Linked DNA regions of Homo sapiens. The protein of the gene in region 1 interacts with the protein of each later gene in a pairwise test. Each region holds a gene or a part of one and is shown in the gene's direction. Other genes may lie near its edges.

Region 1 (4,951 bases):
GCGGGCGCCTGTAGTCCCAGCTACTTGGGAGGCTGAGGCAGGAGAATGGCGTGAACCCGGGAGGCGGAGCTTGCAGTGAGCCGAGATCCCGCCACTGCACTCCAGCCTGGGCGACAGAGCGAGACTCCGTCTCAAAAAAAAAAAAAACCTGGCCAGGCATGGTGGCTCACACCTGTAATCCTAGCACTTTGGGAGGCTGAGGCAGGTGGATCACCTGAGGTCAGGAGTTCGAGACCAGCCTGACCAATATGGTGAAGCCCTGTCTCTGCTAAAAATACAAAAAATTAGCTGGGTGTGGTGGCATATATCTATAATCCCAGCTACTTGGGAGGCTGAGGCAGGAGAACTGCTTGAATCTTGGAGGCGGAGGTTGCAGTGAGCTGAGATTGTGCCATTGCCCTCCAGCCTTGTCAACAAGAGTGAAACGCTGTCTCAAAAAAAAAAAGGCTGGGTGCAGTGGCTCATGCCTGCAATCCCACCACTTTGGGAGGCCAAAGCGGGTGGATCACCTGAGGTCAGGAGTTCGAGACCACCCTGGCCAACATGGCAAAACCCTGTCTCTACTAAAAATACAAAATATTAGCCGGCCGTGGCGGCAGGCACTGGCAATCCCAGCTACTCGGGAGGCTGAGGCAGGAGAATCACTTGAACCTGGGAGGTAGAGGTTGCGGTAAGCTGAGATCGTGCTACTGTACTCCAGCCTGGGGGACAGAGTAAGACTCTGTCTCAAAACAAAACAAAACAAAACAAAAAAAAACCTATCACGTGTTACTGTAAGTAACATTTTTATGAACAATAACTATTTTCTAAAACAAAATTTTAATGAGGAATGTCTTTGTTTTACATTTTTGCAAATCTCTTTAATGCCCCGCTTAATCGATAACAGCTAGAAGATTCTCATATCTTTTTTCTGCGTTAAATCTATCATGAGTTGTTGTTGTAATTGAAGCAAATCTGACCACACAGATAGGTAGTTGGAAAGGAAGGAGTTTGTTTTGTGAATGTTCTACCTTTGATACTACACCCAAACTGAACAAGTGGTAGTCAGTCAAAGATTATTTGCCATCTGGAATCTGAAACGGTAACAGTAAACTTTTCGTACTCTTGTTAGGTGAAAATTCATTAATCTGCCTTGCACCTCAAATGGATCTCTTACTCATGCATGATTTGGTTACATCAGGCACTGGTTCTTTAGAAAATAGTAGTTCACTGGGCTATGCAGATTCATTTTATTTCTTCAGTGTTTAAAAAAAATCACATTTATTAGTTATCACCAGTGATCTTGTCAGAAAGGTCTTTTTTTTTTTTTAAAGACAGTCTGACTGTGTCACCCAGGCTGGAGTGCAATGTCAGTCTCAGCTCACTGCAGCCTCCGCCTCCCAGGTTCAAGCAATTCTCGTGCCTCAGCCTCCAAAGTAGCTGGGATTACAGGCATGTGCCACCACGCCCAGCTAATTTTTGTGTTTTTAGTAAAGACAGGTTTCACCATGTTGGCCAGGCTGGTCTCGAACTCCTGGCCTCCCAAAGTGCTGGAATTACAGGTGGGAGCCACTATGCCAGGCCGTAGCAGAAAGAAAGGTCTTTAAGATTTGGAAAGACAGTTTCTGACCCTGCCAGGGCATAGTGGTTAAAATGTGGGCTCAGAGTACAAGACTACATGGATTCAAATTTTGACTCCCTTGCTTACCACCTTTTTAATTGAGCCAGCTCACCTAACCTGTCTGTGGATATGTTTCCTTGTCTGTAAAATGGGAGTAATGATAGGACCCACTTCATACAACTGTGGAGGATTCATTGAGGGCTACATGAAAAGCCTTCAGATAGTGACAGGCACGTTGTCACTGTTAAACTGTTAGCCTTCACTGGATTTTGTAGTTCTGCTTTATCCTGGCTTTCCTCCTCTCTCTGACCACACCTGACTCCTTTGCTAGTGTTCTTTCTCCTTCTGAGTGTAAACATTTAGCATTTTTTTCTTTTTTTAAAATTTTTACTTATTTATTTATGTATTTTTGCTGGCTTATTTCTCCAAGAAAGAATAGCATTTTTTAAAATCTGCATTTTTTCCCCTTTAGGAATTTCATTTATTAACTATTGTTTAGTGGTTATTGTTTTCTTAACATGGACACAATCATAAGTACTAAGATGCACTTTTTCTTAAATTTTAGCATCTTAAAAATCTGATTGCATCTTACAGGTGATGTGATAAAAAAAGAATTGTGTCATAGTTTAATTGGCAAAATTTATCCTTTTTCAGCTCAACTAAGCTTACAAATGATACCTTAAATGTGATAAAATATGGAATATGTGGCTTTAATATTCTGCTTTATTCATGTAACATCATTAACATAAGAATTTTACCATGAGAGTAGACTCTTCATAAGCATTTTAATGCTCTTGTCTTGAATTCTGCTTGTGACAGAAATGACTCTTCAACTGTGGTGTCTATTACAGAGAAGGGAACACTGCCACTTACTCCATGTTTGCAGTGAACTAACAGCAGGGTCCACCTGTGTCATCCCTAGTAGTCTGCTCCAAGTGCGGTTCCTCCTGACACTGTTTGAAGGTGCTATGTGTCTGTGCACATGTGCATTTCTCTGGGTGGGGTGTCTGTAACAGAGTCTCAGTAGTTACTGACCTCCATTAAGATTAATTGCTGCCTTGAAAGGCTACTGGGGCTGGTTAGCTCCTGAACGCTGCGTGCTGCGTGCATGTGGCCTCTCTTGCGCCTAGAGTTGCAGCTGAGAACAGTAAGCAAAGTCTATTTAGTTAATGAGTTCTTTTTCACATTGCCATGATGTATTGGGTAAAACATTTAAAATTGAATCTTTGGATGACTGAGAATACTTTAGTGTGTAAATGTGTATTAACTATAGACATAGAAAGCAAAGACAGTGATATTATAGAGAGTGTCTGCATCTGGTTCAGTGCCATGGAGAACAACTACTTCACTCTCCTGTGCGCTCTTGTTACTCCTCTCCAAGATGGGAAACCAGACTAAATGGTTTCTTACCTTGGCCCATTTTACATTTCGCTCTCTCTCTCGTCTATTGAAATAACTAATGAACATCAACGTTTTACCACCAAAACAGTATGGGGGACCCATAAACCATCAGGTTGTTGGGTTTTTTTCCCCCTATAACTTACATAATTGACTTCTAAATAATTAATTTGGCTGCTGACTTATAAATGGGAAGGTGGAAAGCAGTCAGTCTTACTCTTCTGATTCTTGGTCCTCCATAATTGGAGTTTCCATTTTACAGATTGTGAACAGTCTGTGTTATTTGACCCAGACTACTTTTTCGGCTGTCCATCATGTGTACTACCTTCCTTCACCAAACACCTCGTAGTTTGGCTCACCAGACAGTTTCTCTTGGGGACGTTGTGCCCTTTTGTAACTAAGCCCTCTGCTCCCTCTGCTTGCCCGAAGGCCTTCTACAGCATCAGATGGCTCTTCTAGACCTTTCTGTAGATTAGCACTGTAATAATAGAACTGTCTGCAGCAGTGAAAATTTCTATCTATGCTGTCATTACAGGAGCTATGAGCCACATGTGGCTATTTGGCACTTCAAATGGATGCTGGTGTGATTAAGGAACTGCACATTTAATTTTATTTAATTTTAATTTAATGAGCCACCTGTGACTAGTGGCACTCATATTAGAGCAGCTCTAGACCTGCTCCCTCATACATAACTAACTCTTTATGGTCCATGCTGAGACCATATGGTCCATATCACCGTATAGTACTTAACACATATTTCTTTTCTTACTCATTTTAAATTGCTTCCATTTTAATTTAACTTTTTGAATAGATACTAGACTCACACAGTCTTAAAATTACAAAATGCAGAAAGGAACACAGTGCAGTAAAATGTCTTCCACTCCAGCCTCTGTTCATCATCTTTACACCCCACCCCCAGACATAAGCACTATTACTGGTTTCTTGAGAATCTTCTCGTGTCTTTATGCATATGCTAATGAGTGTTAGTTATTCTCCCTTCCCCTGTTTTTTTATCACAGTGCTCTTTCCCTTTCATACATAGCTTCCTTGTGCTTTCGTTTTTAGCTTTATGGTACTTCACTGTGTAGATGTACCATAATTTAACTGTTTTCCTGTTGATGGACAGATAGCCATTTCCAATATTTTGCTAGTAAAACCTATTCTGCTGTAAATAATTTTATCTTTATCTTTTTTTTTAATTATACTTTAAGTTCTGGATTACATGTGCATAACGTGCAGTTTTGTTACAAAGGTATACACGTGCCCTGGTGGTTTGCTGCACCCATCAACCCGTCACCTACATTATTTCTCCTAATGTTATCCCTCCCCTAGCCTCCCAGCCCCCGACAGGCCCTGGTGTGTGATGTTCCCCTCCCTGTGCCCATGTGTTCTCATTGTTCAACTCTCACTTATGAGTGAGAACATGGGGTGTTTGGTTTTCTGATCTTGTGATATTTTGCTGAGAATGATGGTTTCCAGCTTCATCCATGTCCCTGCAAAGGACATGAACTCCTCCTTTTTTATAGCTGCACAGTATTCCATGGTGTATATGTGCCACATTGTCTTAATCCAGTCTATCATTGATGCACATTTGGGTTGGTTCCAAGTCTTTGCTATTGTGAATAGTGCCGCAATAAACATACATATGTATGTGTCTTTATAGTAGCATGATTTATAATCCTTTGGGTATATGCCCAGTAATGGGATTCCTGGGTCAAATAGTATTTCCAGTTCTAGATCCTTGAGGAATCACCACACTGTCTTCCACAATGGTTGAAATAATTTTCACTCCCACCAACAGTGTAAAAGCATTTCAGTTTTTCCACAACCTCTCCAGCATCTGTTGTTTCCTGGCTTTTTAATGATCGCCATTCTAACTGGCATGAGATGGTATCTCATTGTGGCTTTGATTTGCATTTCTCTAATGACAGTGATGATGAGCTTTTTTTCATA
Region 2 (4,951 bases), on another chromosome or scaffold:
CACAAGTCTTGGAATGTTCTCCCTTACTTTTGGTTCCTGGCAAACTCACCCTCCAGTAGACCAAAAAGCTATGCTTGCCATTGGGATAGGCACAGAAACGGAAGGACCAGAGTCAAGTGTGGATACTACAAAAATGTTTCTTGAAGTAGGAGAATCAGATGGATTGATTGGGAATGGAAGGGATGGTGATTGCAGAAACGGGTTCTGTGATGTCAAGTGCTATGTAAAAAAGATGTTACTGTAAAATGAATTACTTATTTTAACATTATAAGTAGAGAGGGGAATTGTGTTTAAGAGTAATGCAATTAAGGCAAAGGAAAAAAGATTCAGAGAGATGCCTGGCCAAGGTGTTTGGGTTTGATGTGATAAAAGGGCTTATGGCAGCTTCCTTTCATATTGAGATTTAAAGTGTCAGATAACTGTCATATACATTCACAGGCATCTAATTTAAGCTTCAATATATGGACCATAGTCTTTTTTTTTTTTTTTTTTTGACACTAGGTCTTGCTCTGTCACCCAGGGTGGAGTGCGGTGGCGCAATCTCGGCTCACTGCAACCTCTGCCTCAGCCTCTCAAGCGGCTGGGATTACAAGTATGTGCCACATGCCCAGCTGATTTTTGTATTTTTAGTAGAGATGGGGTTTCGCCATATTGGCTAAGCTGGTCTTGAACTAATAACCTCAAGTGATCTGCCTGCCTTGGCCTCCCAAAGTACTGAGATTACAGGTATGAGCCACTGCGCTTGGCCTGGACCATGAGTCCATGTTTCTGGTACTAGCTAAGACCCTAACTCTGGTGTCTATTCATACCAAGACATGTCCATAAAACAGCCAGCATTTCCGTAACTCTGGCATCTATTTTTCTAAAGCTAAATAATGAAACATTGTATGAAACTTTGCTTTTAAATTGTATAAATGATTCTGGATTACAAAATGGCATCTTACTTTCTGATAGCAATTAAAAATAATTGATATTATGGCCCGTCACAGTGGCTCACGCCTGTAATCCCAGTACTTTGGGAGGCTGAGGTGGGCGGATCACCTGAGGTAGGAGTTCGAGACCAGCCTGGCCAACATAGTGAAACCCTGTCACAATACAAAAAATTAGCCAGGCATGGTGGCGGGTGCCTGTAGTCCCAGCTACTCTGGAGGCTGAGGCAGGAGAATTGCTTGAACCTGGAAGGTGGAGGTTGCAGTGCAGCGAGATCACGCCATTGCACTGCAGCCTGGCGACAAGAGGGAAATGCTGTCTGAAAAAGAAAAATAATAATTGGTATTTTGAGCAGTTGGACCAACATTATTTCGTTCAACATTATTTAATATTTGTTTCCTGAGTACAAAACTCTTGGCTTTTAGTATAATGTTCAGCAAACTATTTTGATAGTTAAAAATTTTACCTTTAATATTTTCTTTCCTAGGTGCTCAATGTCCTAATGAAATGCTGTCTAAAAAAGCCTTAGCCTCACCAAGTTCTAAATCACATGAAGATATGTTGTACCCTCCTAGTGTTTTGTCCAAGAGTAGGACATCCTTTGTTGAAGACAGTGAGTTGTAATGGATGTTAGTTCTTTACTGCTGATGATCATTCTTGGGGCAATTGTTGTTGCCATTAGCCTTTTTACTTTTATTGCTGTATATGAGATCCTTTTTGGTCTTACATGATCTTACTTGTAAATGTTTGCTATTAATTATGGTATCTGAATTCTGCTTAACATGGTCTTTGGTTGCATATTTTTGCATCCACTATTTTATTATCTAAATTCTCACCACTTACCTTTTTTTTTTAATGGGACAGAGTCTCTGACACATTAGTACATCTATTGGTGGTCTTCATATTATTGGTAAATAACAAAGTATAGTAACTGGAAAAACATTCTTTTTTTATTGTTTCGAGACAGAGTCTAGCTCTGTTGCCCAGGCTGGAGTGCAGTGGCATGATCTCGGCTCACTGCAACCTCCGCCTCCTGGGTTCAAGCGATTCTCCTGCCTCAGCCTCCCAAGTAGCTGGGATTATAGGCGCTTGCTACCACGCCCAGCTAACTTATTTTTAGTAGAGATGGGGTTTCACCATGTTGGCCAGGCTGGTCTCGAACTCATGACCTCGTGATCCGCCTGCCTCAGCCTCCCAAATTGCTGAGATTACAAGCGTGAGCTCCCGCACCCGGCCTGGAAAAATCATTCTTGTTTCTTATTATCATCTCTGGAATTTTCATATGGTAGTAATACATAAAAATATTACTGCCTAACTGGTTTTGTAACGTGGACGAACCATAATTCACATAACATAACATTCTTCAAGCCATTTAAGTTGCTTCCAGTTTTTAAAGTAACTTTCAGGGAACAGTTTTATGATAATAACATTAAAATTACATCCGGGGCCAGTCATGGTAGTTCACACTTGTAATCCCAGCACTTTGGGAGGCCGAGGCAGGAGGATCACTTGAGCCCAGGAGTTGGAGACCAGCCTGGGCAACATAGCGAGACCTCATCTCTACTTTTTTTAAAAATTAAAAAAAAAAAATTACATCCTAATTTAATTAGATCCCTGTGTGCTGAGGCTATATCCCTGGTTTAATTATTTTTTTATGTGCTTTGTCTTAAGTTTAAAAAATATTTCTAATGTATGTGAACATGTTTATATAGGTATGTATGTATGTATATAAAATGGTTTATTTCTTAGAATTGCATCGTAATATCCACTTTAATTTGTCTTACTAGCGGAAACCCTTTCTGTGAGTGGGATTCCAAATGCTAGGAAGCTAGGGGAGCCTATCCGAGCAGCTATTCCTTTACATCCACCCTACCACCCTTCAGAGCCTCGAGCACCCTGCCCCATAGGAAAAGAATACTTGCATTCAAGTCACTGCTCCCCAGCCGTAAATTCTACTGGAGAGCATACGGAATTTTCTGGGGTAAGTGGAAAAGCTTACTTTCAGTTGGCTAGAAGTACACTTGTATGTATGTCTGTGTGTGTGTTGGTAATTGATTAGAAGGCCGTGTGTGTGTATGTGTATTGGTGAAGTCTTTATTCTTTGTCAAGGAAGCCCCTATATTTAAAGAAGTCTGCTAGAATTGTCAAGCATATTGCACTAGTCAAAGCATCGTACTCCTTAAAATTTGCCTCTGTATACACCTGCACATTCTTGTTCTAGGAAGATAGGAGAAAAACGAATGCATATAAAGGGAAATAATAAGAGCCAACACATAGTGAATGTTTATGTTGTGCCAGGCGCAGTTCTGGATACTTTAGGGGTATTGAATAATTTACTGCCCATAACAACTCTGGAGTAGCTACTATATTTATTTATTGTTGGGAAGCTGATGTAGAGAGGGCAAGGTTACACAGCAATTACAGAGTCAGGATTTGAACTTGGACATTCTGGCTTCAGAGTCCATATTGTGTCCGTAATTTAATAATTTCAAATTTAGAAAACACAGAGTGGAAAAGAAAATAACCATCCATGCATATTCCCATTATCCACCATGAACCACTGTTAACATATTGATCTATTTGGTTCAATTGCAGTGAGCCAAGATCACGCCACTGCGCTCCAGCCTGGGTGACAGAGTAAGACTTCATCTCAAAAAAAAAAAAGAAAAAACCTTTTTTATATAGTCATCCTGTCCTTATCTTTCTAAAAAGAACAGGACTGGGTTCGGTGGCTCACACCCATAATCCCAGCACTTTGGGAGGCTCATGTGAGTGCCAGAGTTTGAGACCACCCTGGGAAACATAGTGAGACCTTGTCTCTGCTAAAAATAGAAAATTAGCCTGGAGTGGTGGTGCATGCCTGTGATCTTAGCTACTTAGTAGGCTGAGGCAGGAGGATCACTTGAGCCCAGGAGCTTCAGTGAGCTGTGACCACACCACTGCATTCCAGCCTGGGCAGCAGAGCAAGACCCTGTCTCAAAAAGAAAAAAATAAAATAAGAAAAACAACAGGCAGGTATGTACACAGGGTAGATATATAAACAGTGATACATTTTCATTATTTAAACATTCAAGCAATGCATTAAAAGTACAGAGATGAAATAAGCATTATTAACAATAGGTGACCACATTCTCAACATTCTGTGCATCTAAACAGGAGAGGGATTAGATAAAAAGAGGTGTTAAAATGGAGTCATAAGATAATGTTTACTTTTGGGGGAATCATAGTGGGGGTTTTAGAGATATTTCTGAGTTGGTAATACTCTGTTTCTTGACCTGGGTGGCAGTTAAAGGGGAGTGTTTATTTTCAAATAATTCATTGAGCTAGAAATACTTTATTTTAAAAGTTTTATTAAAATATGATTATATTTTAGTTGCTATTTAGTAAAAGGTTGTTTGTTTTATTTTTTTTTGAGACAGAGTGTCGCTGTGTCGCCCAGGCTGGAGTGTAGTGGTGCAGTCTGCACCCACTGCAACCTCCACCTCCCAGGCAAGTGATTCTCCTGCCTCAGCCTCCCAAGTAGCTGGGACTACAGGCACACGTGCCACCACACCTGGCTGATTTTTTTTAAAAATATTTTTAGTAGAGACGGGGTTTTGCCATGTTGGCCAGGCTGGTCTCAAACTCCTGGCCTCACCTGCCTGCCTCTGCTTCCCAGATTGCTGAGATTATAGGCATGAATCACCATACCCAGCCTACTAAAGGGTATTTAATTTTACTTTAATAGAAAAAGATAATGAAGTGAAATTAAAGATATCATTAAACATTAAATAAATGGCCGGGTGCGGTGGCTCACACCTGTAATCCCAGCACTTTGAGAGGCTGAGGTGGGTGGATCACGAGGTCAGGAGTTCAAGACCAGCCTGGCCAAGATGGTGAAACCCTGTCTCTACTGAAAATACAAAAATTAGCCAGGCGCGGTGGCAGGTGCCTGTAATCCCAGCTACTCTGGAGGCTGAGTCAGGAGAATTGCTTGAACCCAGGAGGTGGAGGTTGCAGTGACCCAAGACTGCACCACTGC
Region 3 (4,951 bases), on another chromosome or scaffold:
TGCCTGTAATCCTAGCTACTCAGGAGGCGGAGGCACGAGAATTGCTTGAACCCAGGAGGCGGAGGTTGCAGTTAGCCGAAATCACGCCACTGTACTCCAGCCTGGGCGACAGAGGAAGACTGTCTCAACAAAAAAGAAAAAAAAATACTGATGCAAGATGAGGTCTTGCTGTATTGCCCAGGCTGGTCTCAAACTCCTGGCTTCAAGCGTCTTCCTGCCTCAGCCTCCCGAAGTTCTGGGATTACAGGTAGGAGTCACCGCCCCCCACTGAACAGTTTGTTCTTCACTAACTGTTTTCCTGGACTGCCTTCACATTCAGCCCCTACAGAGGGGTCTTTCTGGTTCTGGGTCAGGCAGGCAACCTGAGTAGCTGCCAGGATCCAGCCACATCCTGCTGAGCTGCATGAAGGACTGTGGGGCTCTCTGGGGCCTTTGTTCCTTGTTACACTTGGAGTTGCTGGTCTCCCTTAACTGGCTTGTAGGTCTTAGCCCATCTGGGCTGCTGTAATAAAATACCTTAGACTGGAAGCCAGGCACATTGCTCATGCCTCTAACCTCAGCATTTAGGAGGCTGAGATGGGAGGATTGCTTGAGCCCAGGAGTTCGAGACCAGCCTGGGCAACATAGTGAGACCTCATCTTTACAAAAAAATTTAATTTTAATTTGTTTTTCACCCGTGACACAGCCCTCAGGAGGTCCTGAGAACATATGTCTCTCGTCTTTGCAAAAAATTGTTTTAATTAGCCGGGCGTGGTGGCACACATCCCTAGTCCCAGCTACTCAGGAGGCTGAGGTGAGAGGATAACTTGAGCCCAGGAGTTTGACGCTATAGTGATCCAAGATTGCACCACTACGCTTCAGCCTGGGTGACAGAGCAAGACCCTGTCTCAAAAAAACAAAACAGACTGGGCCATTGATAAACAACAGAGATGAGCTGCTCATAGTTGTAGAGGGTGGGAAGTCCCATATCACGGTGCTAGCAGATTCCGTGTCTAGTGAGGGCCCATCTCTCATAGATAGCACCTTTTAGGTATCTGCACAGGGTGGCAAGGACAAACAAGCTCCCCCTCTTTTATACGGGCACAGTTCGTATTCATGAGGACAGAGCCCTCCTGACTGAATCAACTCCCGAAGGCCCCACTTTTTTTTTTTTTTTTTTTTTTGGTGAGACGGAGATTTACTCTTGTTGCCCAGGCTGGAGTGCAGTGGTGCGATCTTGACTCACCGCATCCTCCGCCTCCCAGGTTCAAGCGATTCTCCTGCCTCAGCCTCCCAAGTAGCTGGGATTACAGGCATGTGTCAGCATGCCAGGCTAATTTTGTATTTTTAGTAGAGACGGGGTTTCACTGTGTTGCCCAGGCTGATCTCGAACTCCTGATCTCAGGTAATCCGCCTGTCTCTGCCTCCCAAAGTGCTGGGATTACAGGCGTGAGCCACTGCACCCAGCCCTTTTTAAATTTTTGATCAACAACTTCTTTTTTATTTTGAGATGGAGTCTTGCTCTGTTGCCCAGCCTAGAGTGCAGTGGCGTGATCTTGGCTCGCTGCAACTTCCACCTCCTAGGTTCAAGCAATTCTGCCTCAGCCTACCTAATAGCTGGGATTACAGGCGTGCACCACTGCGCCCAGCTAATTTTTGTATTTTTAGTAGAGATGGGGTTTCACCATATTGGCCAGGCTAGTCTCCAACTCCTGACCTCAGGTGATCCGCCCACCTCGGCCTCCCAAAGTGCTGAGATTACAGGCGTGAACCACCATACCTGGCTGAAAGGCCTAACTTTTTTTTTTTTTTTAGACGGAGTCTTGCTCTGTCACCAGGCTGGAGTGCATTGGCCCGATCTCGGCTCACCGCAACCTTCGCCTCCTGAGTTCAAGCGATTCTCCTGCCTCAGCCTCCCGAGTAGCTGGGATTACAGGCACGTACCACTGTGCCTGGCTAATTTTTTGTATTTTTAGTAGAGATGGGGTTTCACCATGTTAGCCAGGATGGTCTCTATCTCCTGACCTCGTGACCTCGTGATCCGCCCTCCTCAGCCTCCCAAAGTGCTGGGGTTACAGGCGTGAGTCACCGTGCCCAGCCAGCCCCACTTCTTAATACCACTACATTGGAGATAGGCTTTAGCATGTGAATTTTGGGAAGAGGCAAACATTCAGACCATAGCATCTGTCGACGGCCATGTCACAGCTTCCCTGGAAAGACATCAGGAAAGGACTGTGCCTTTGACAGTCTCTCACAGGCCCATGCTGGCTGGGGAATTCCTCAGCTCTCTTCCCTAAGAGCTGACAGTTACTACTCCCAGGAATCATCCTGCCAGCCCCCTTCCTGCAGATGGCAGGATCCACCGGCAGTGTGAGCAATTCGTCAGGTAACACTGCGGTCTCAATAGGCCCCTGACTGCTGGCTACCCACCTTGGCAGCTGTCAAAGGAGGTCGTCTGTCTGCCCAGCCACAGATAATGCTTCTGAGCCCTATTCCTGTTTGAGCCACGTTAATGTGGAACAAAACAGGGAGTTAGGTTAGGAGGAATGGAAGTAATTCTTTGTTCATTTTTTCCACGAAGGACTGTGAGCACCCACTGTGTACCTGGCCAGGTCCTAGGGGTAGAGGACACAACAGGGATCTACACAGGCAAACTCCCTGCCCCAGGGAAACTGACATGAAGCCCCAAAAAATGCCCAGTTTGGCAGGGGTGGTGGCTCGCACCTGTAGTCCGAGCACTTTGGGAGGCCAAGGCAGGAGGACCACTTGAGCCCAGGAGTTTGAGACCAGCCTGGGCAACATTAGGGAGACCTCGTCTCTATTACTAAAAAATGCACAAATAAATAATTTTTTTTTAGAAAAAGAAAAATGGCCAGCTTGCTAAATAAATCATAGGAACTCCCAAGAAGGATAAGTCAAGCAGGGAGAATCAAGCCAGGGAGTTAGTGTCGGGAAGGGCTTTGTTGGTCAGACGCAGTGGCTCATGCCTATAATCGCAGGGTTTTGTGAGGCTGTGGCAGGAGGAACACTCAGCTGGGAGTTGGAGACCAGCCCAGGCAATATAGTGAGATCACGTCTCTACCAAAAAAAAAAAAAAAAAAAAGCATACATATACATATACTTTTTTTTTTTTTTTTTTTTTTTTTTTTTCGGTTAACTGGATGGGCCGGGTGCCGTGGCTCACGCCTGTAATCCCAGCACTTTGGGAGGTGGGCGGATCACTTGAGGTCAGGAGTTCAAGACCAGCCTGGCCAACATGGTGAAACCCCATCTCTACTAAAAATAGAAAAATTAGCCAGGCATGGTGGTGGTTACCTTTAATCCCAGCTACTCAGGAGGCTGAGACAGGAGAATCGCTTGAACGATTCTTGCAGTGAGCCGAGATCCCACCACTGCACTCCAGCCTGGGCGACAGAGCGAGACTCTGCCTCAAAAAAAAAAAGAAAAAAAAAAATTAGCTGGATGTAGCTCCTGTGGTCCCAGCTATTTGGGAAGCTGAGGTGGGAGGATTGCTTGAGCCCAGGAGTTTGAGGCTGAAGTGAGCTATGATGGTGCCACTGTACTCCAGCCTGGGTGACAGAGCAAGGCCCTGTCTCCAAAAGCAAAAGAGTAGAGAAAGGGCTTTATGTGACCAGGGAGAGTATGAAGAGCTATGGCTGTCCCATTCCCATTCTAGTAGGTCCGAGAGCAAGCAGGGCCAGACTGCCAGGGGCCCCAATAAAGCATTGTAGGGGCCCAGGCAGTGTCACTTGGGGCCAAGGTAGTACAAAGTGGTTTTGAAGGAGTTGAAGATGAATCCAAGGATCTGAATGAGGAGGGCCAGAGCTGGTGAAGCTACGGCATTCACAGGTTTTGGGAAGGACTGGAGCCAGGTCCTGAAATTGTTGAGTGGAGGTGTCTGGGGTGTGTGCGAGTCTGGCATTCACAGGGAAGTCCGGGCCAAAGACTCCAGTGGGGGAGGCATCAGTGAATAGATGGTGCTTCAGGCCTGTCTTAGTCAGCTCAAGCTGCCACACAACAAAATATCACAGACTGGGTGGCTTAAACAACAGACATTTATATTTCAGAGTGCTGGGGGCTGGCAGTCTAGATGAGAGTGCCAGCGTGGTCAGGTTCTGGTGAGGGCTCTCTTCATGGCTTGCAGACAGCTGCCTTCTTAATACCACCGTTATGACCTCAATTAACCTTAATTAGCTCCCAAAGGTTTTATCTCCAGATACAGGCACATTGGGGCTCAGAGTTTCAATCTGTGAATTTGGAGGGACATACTTTGTCCATAGCAGAGCCCTGAGACTGAGCCCAGTCCCCTGGAGGTGAAAACCCTTTCTGGAAGGGCCACACTCCCCATCCACTACTGCCCTTCCTAGATCTCAGCTCCAGTGTCACCCCTTCTGGGCAAGGTCAGGCACCCCAGTGTGTAGCACATTGATCTGTGTGACCAAGGATGAATGGCCCTGTCTCCTGCTGGACTGTGAGCTCCAGAGGCAGGGCTACTTTGTCACCATTGTGGCCTGCCCAGGCAGGGACCTGGCAAATATTTATTGAGTAGTTGTTGGGAAGTCATGGAAACCGTGTGCTGTGCCCTTGGGTCTCACCAGAAGATCTGCTCAGGCCCAGGGCCAGGACTAGGCACTGTCCTGGCCAGGAAGGTCCCAGCTGCCCTGTGGCCTCCTGCCCTTGTCCCCCACACCCTCAGGGGTGCTGATATGCTGAATTTTAAGGAGAGATGATTCTCATATGGTTTTCTGCCCTTGGGGAGTTTATAGTCAAGTGGGACTTAGTTTCCTCAGAGGTAAGCTTAAGGGCACTGTGGCCGGGGTGGGGCAGGAGAGGGACATCTTCTCTAGCCTGGAGAAGTGAGTAGCTGAGGGTGGAGGAAGAGGGTATTCCAGGCAGGGTGCACAGCTTGGGCAAAGGCCTCGCTGCAGTAGAGGAGGACCAGGCAGTGTGTTTGAGCCTGACTTAGGTGGGG
Region 4 (4,951 bases), on another chromosome or scaffold:
GCCAGTAGAGAGAAAGTGACAGAACTCCTTTGGAAGCTTCCAAGGATTTGGGCAGGAGGAAGGTGACAGGCAGAGATTTCCTGAGGAGAACCGTGATTCTTATAAGGCCCTCATGCTCCTGGCCTGCCTTTTACAAGCCTTGTGTGAATCGTGTTTTCTATGCCCCTTTTGGGATGTGTCAGTGCCTCTGCTTGTCCTATTTTTCCTTAACTTTTTTTTTTCTCACCAGAATGTCCCTCTTCCAGTGGAAAGCCCAACCATGCAGACATCTTGCTCATAAACTTACAGTATGTTTCAGAAGTGGAAATAATTAATGACCGAACAGAAACCCCTCCTCCCCTAGCTTCACTCAATGTTAGTAAGGTAAGGACTCAAGGGCAGATCTGGCTCTCTAAAATGGTGGGAAAGATGAGTCTCATTGAGTCTTAGTGATACATTGTTGTCTATTTTTTATTTTTTAAAATTGACTTAAAATTGTTTGTTCTGATATCTTTTTAAAAAATGTAGGTTTAGTTTTTCTCTTTATTCCTGGATGTTATCAGTAGATCTTAAGAAGTAGCTTAACTCCCAAATAAGTTGAGAGCTTGCTTCTGCCTTTATGAAAGAGGACTTTTTAAATCTTGGAGTTCATGATGAACTAATAGTGCTGCTGGGGTTTGGGTGGTGGCGTTACCTATGAATGTCTTCAAATTGTGTATATGTGGATGTGTGCATACGTGAATATATGCATTTTCTGCTTGAAGATCTAAAGTGTTTTTCAGATTCTCGGAGGGTTTCATGACTTAGAAAAGTTTGAAAGCCACTGTCTTAAAGGTTCTTTTTTGTCTTTATGTTTGAATTTTGAGTTCTAACAGTTACATGCTTAGCATATTTTAATCTTGCACATAAAAGTTGATCTCTGGGAACCCCCAAGTCACTTTTGTGTGTGTATGTGTGAGACAGGGTCTTGCTTTGTTGCCCAGGTTGAACTTGAACGCCTGGGCTCAAGTGACCCTCCTGCCTCGGCCTTCTGAGTAGCTGGGATTACATGCATGCGTCACCATGCCTGCCCAAGTCTTTCTTTTTATTGGAGCCACTGCGCCCGGCGTTTTTTTTGAGACAGAGTCTCTCTGTGTCGCCCAGGCTGGAGTGCAGTGACGCGATCTCGGCTCACTGTAACCTCCGCCTCCCAGGTTAAGTGATTCTCGTGCCTCAGCCTCTGGAGTAGTTGGGACTACAGGTGTGTGCCACGACGCCTGGCCAAATTTTTTTTTTTTTTGGAGACAGGCACACACTGTCACACCCGGCTAATTTGTTTTATTTTAGTAGAGACGGGGTTTCATTCTGTTGCCCAGGCTGGTCTTGAACTCCTGAGCTCAGGCAGTCTGCTTGCCTCGGCCTCCCAAAGTGGTAAGATTATAGGTGTGAGCCACTGCTCCTGGCTCAATTTTTGTATTATTAGTAGAGATGGGGTTTCACCATGCTGGCCAGGCTGATCTTGAACTTCTGACCTCAAGTGATCTGCCTGCCTCAGCCTCCCAAAGTGCTGGGATTACAGGTGTCAGCCACCATGCCCGGCCCTAAGTCACTTTTTTGACAATTCCGTTTATTTAGTCAAAATTGAAGTTGATCATAATAATGCCTCAAGCCCTGTCATAGCCTGTGCTGTCCCCTGTACTTGGAACATTTTTCCTTCCAGAATGACTGGAGCCTTACCACCCATCAGCACTCAGTTAAATGGCACGTCTTCCAAGAAGTCTTCTCTGATCACCCAGGCTGAAGTAATTTGCCTGCATTATTCTCTCTCATAGTACCTTGTCCTTCACAGTTAAGGTGACCATATCATTTGTAGTCCAACCTGGGACATTTTTGAGAGTAAAGGGGAATGCTTTTATTTTACACAGGGACAACAGGTATAGATTAGGTTACCCTATTCATAGCTTTTTTTTTTTTTTTTTTTTTTGAGACGGAGTCTCGCTTTGTCGCCCAGGCTGGAGTGCAGTGGCGCCATCTCAGCTCACTGCAAGCTCCGCCTCCCGGGTTCATGCCATTCTCCTGCCTCAGCCTTCCTAGTAGCTGGGACTACAGGCGCCCGACACCACGCCCGGCTAACTTTTTTGTATTTTTAGTAGAGACGGGGTTTCACTGTGTTAGCCAGGACGGTCTCGATCTCCTGACTTTGTGATCCGCCCGCCTCGGCCTCCCAAAGTGCTGGGATTACAGGCGTGAGCCACCGCTCCTGGCCATAGTTGTTTACTTGTCTAGTGTCTGTCTCACTAAACTTTATTCTGCAGGGATGGGGACCATACCTATTTTATTTACTATTGAATATACAGAGCCTTGCACAGAGTATTTAATAAATATTTGTTGGATGAATAAGATGCCTCCAATTTTAGTAGCAGGTGCTTTTCATTAAGTCTCTTGAATTAATGTGGTGGAAGTTTTTCCCTCTAGAGGAATCTTGCAATAATGTGTATTACTTTGCCTCTCTTGGGAATGTGGTGTGTTCTGTACAGTTCAGCAAAGCAAGGAAACACTTAGGCAACTAAAATAATAGAGGGTAACTGATGCTGAGGCTAGTGAATGTCGTTACCTCAGATCTGGAGTTCCTATCTTGTCAGATTCTAGGGAAATGCCACACATTTTTTAGTGATGGCCAGGGACAGATTTGGAAGGCTATTGAGTTCATATGGGTGTTGTCTTGTATGGGATGTCCCATTCTTTGAAGCTTATAGGTTTTTGAAACCTTGGCTTAGTAATATACCTTCTACCAGAGTATAGGAGCTCTTTGAGTGTCTTCTATAAGCTCATGAAATTTTAAGACTTGTTAAATAATTTATTCCTTGGTGTTTTTTTTTTTTTTTTTTGAGATGGAGTTTCGCTCTTGTTGCCCAGGCTGGAGTGCAATGGTGCAACCTCGGCTCACCGCAACCTCCGCCTCCCGGGTTCAAGTGATTCTCCTGCCTCAGCCTCCTGAGTAGCTGGGATTACAGGCATGCACAGCCACACCCAGCTAATTTTGTATTTTTAGTAGAGACGGGGTTTCTCCGTGTTGGTCAGGCTGGTCTCGAACTCCCGACCTCAGGTGATCCGCCCGCCTCAGCCTCCCAAAGTGCTGGAATTACAGGCGTGAGCCACTGTGCCCAGCATTATTCCTAGTGTATTAAAGAACCAAATAGGCTCTGAGTTATTTTTTGGTGTTTATAGGGTATGATAAGTCTGTCACTAGATCTTTAGTGAGTAGTAAAGATCTGAAAGAGAGGTGATTTTCTGAAGTTAGAAAGTTGGCTCTTGTGACCAATGAGTGCCACCATTTAGAGGGGGTGGGGTAGTGTGGATGGGACTGTTAAGCAGGAGCTGTTAAGAAGCAGTTCTCTTCTTATGTTTGACCTCAGGTAGATATAGCTCTTGGTTAGTTTGTGGATTATCTTTGCCTTTAGGGTTTTCCTTGTTTACTAGCATTGTTGTAAACTAGCTGATTACCCAGTTTTTGAGGAAAGCAGCAGGAAGTAATAGCTTGGGGAACACCAGAAATCTTTACTTTTCTTACTCTGTGGCCTGCTTGCCAAATCTTGAAAGAGGTTTGCTGGGAAGAGGAGTCAGAAACTAAAAACTAAAATTAGGTTGGAGGGTTATCTTTGGATTTCGTTTATTCATTCTTCCGTTTGCAGAGATGTTTATGAGTAAGCTATATTGGCTTTCCCTTGAAATCAACCTTTTAGGATGCTTTGCGATTCCTTTTTGGAGATTGACTTAGAATTAGAGAGAGCCTTTTGGGCTACTGCTGAAAACAGCTATTTCGGGCAGCTATTAACATGTTGCATGAATGACGTGAAAAGTTAGTCTCATTTTTAAGATCACGGACTTGAGTTTTTCTTAAGATGGAGGATCATTTAAGCATATGGAAGGGAACTAATGTACTCTGGGATGTCTGGAAGAAAACTGTTGAAGTTTCAGTTGCTTGCAGTCTGGAGAAGCACTAGCCTACTCTATTTATTTTATTTTATTTATTTATTTTTTGAGACGAAGTCTTGCTCTGTCGCCCAGGCTGGAGTGCAGTGGCGCCATCTCGGCTCACTGCAAGCTCCACCTCCCGGGTTCATGCCATTCTCCTGCCTCAGCCTCCCGAGTAGCTGGGACTACAGGCGCCCGCCACCATGTCCGGCTAATTTTTTTGTATTTTTAGTAGAGACGGGGTTTCACCATGTTGGCCAGGATGGTCTCGATCTCCTGACCTTGTGATCCGCCCGCCTCGGCCTCCCAAAGTGCTGGGATTACAGGCTTGAGCCACCACACCCGGCCTACTCTAACTTTAGTCAAAGGTATCATCACATATTGGCCCATCTTGCTGACATAGTAAGTGATCTGCTTAATTAAACCTGTTGATAAAAACCGGATATTTGTTGACTCTGACCTAGCAGGAAATGGAAGAGAAGGGCTTATACAGGAAATACTTAATAATAGCTCAACTAGGGAAGGTATAAACTAGCAACTTCTTGGAAATTGGCCTGTTTTGCTTTCGAATGATAGTTCACTTCAGGCTAAGAAGTCTTATTTCTATCTCCAGCAGTAGCATGTAAGAGGAAGCTTGAGAGAGGACAGTAGGGTTGCAGTAGGGGGAATTCTTTTTTTTGAGACAGGGTCTCAGTCCATTGCCCGGTGTGATCTCGGTTCAAGCGATTCTCCTGTCTCAGCCTCCTGAGTAGCTGGGATTACAGGCGCCTGCTGCCACCATGCCCGGCTAATTTTTCTATTTTTAGTAGAGATGGGGTTTTGCCGTGTTGACCAGGCTGGCCTTGAACTCCTGACCTCAGATAATCCACCTGCGTCGGCCTCCTAAAGTGTTAGGATTATAGGCGTGAGCCACTGCACCTGGCCAAGTCCCCTGTTTTTCTATTACTTTGTGTTTAGCCCAAGGAACTCATAGTTTGGCAACATGAAGTACCCTGAATAATGTACAATGCTAAGTTAT

Evidence for each region. The genes of interacting proteins can lie anywhere in the genome.
Region 2: the proteins of LSM3 (region 1) and CEP95 interact in binary tests that used the Homo sapiens proteins (3 or more experiments, as listed by UniProt).
Region 3: the proteins of LSM3 (region 1) and NACC1 interact in binary tests that used the Homo sapiens proteins (3 or more experiments, as listed by UniProt).
Region 4: the proteins of LSM3 (region 1) and LSM12 interact in binary tests that used the Homo sapiens proteins (3 or more experiments, as listed by UniProt).

What each region holds. Positions count from the first base shown.
Region 1 is NC_000003.12:14,184,624-14,189,574, forward strand, and holds part of LSM3 (U6 snRNA-associated Sm-like protein LSm3), read left to right. Parts: intron 1-4,951. UniProt on the Homo sapiens protein: Plays a role in pre-mRNA splicing as component of the U4/U6-U5 tri-snRNP complex that is involved in spliceosome assembly, and as component of the precatalytic spliceosome (spliceosome B complex).
Region 2 is NC_000017.11:64,519,985-64,524,935, forward strand, and holds part of CEP95 (centrosomal protein of 95 kDa), read left to right. Parts: intron 1-1,417; coding exon 1,418-1,543; coding exon of another isoform or gene 1,544-1,559; intron 1,560-2,717; coding exon 2,718-2,911; intron 2,912-4,951.
Region 3 is NC_000019.10:13,124,272-13,129,222, forward strand, and holds part of NACC1 (nucleus accumbens-associated protein 1), read left to right. Parts: intron 1-4,951. UniProt on the Homo sapiens protein: Functions as a transcriptional repressor. Seems to function as a transcriptional corepressor in neuronal cells through recruitment of HDAC3 and HDAC4. Contributes to tumor progression, and tumor cell proliferation and survival.
Region 4 is NC_000017.11:44,059,213-44,064,163, reverse strand, and holds part of LSM12 (protein LSM12), read left to right. Parts: intron 1-229; coding exon 230-363; intron 364-4,951. UniProt on the Homo sapiens protein: Nicotinic acid adenine dinucleotide phosphate (NAADP) binding protein. Confers NAADP sensitivity to the two pore channel complex (TPCs) by acting as TPC accessory protein necessary for NAADP-evoked Ca(2+) release.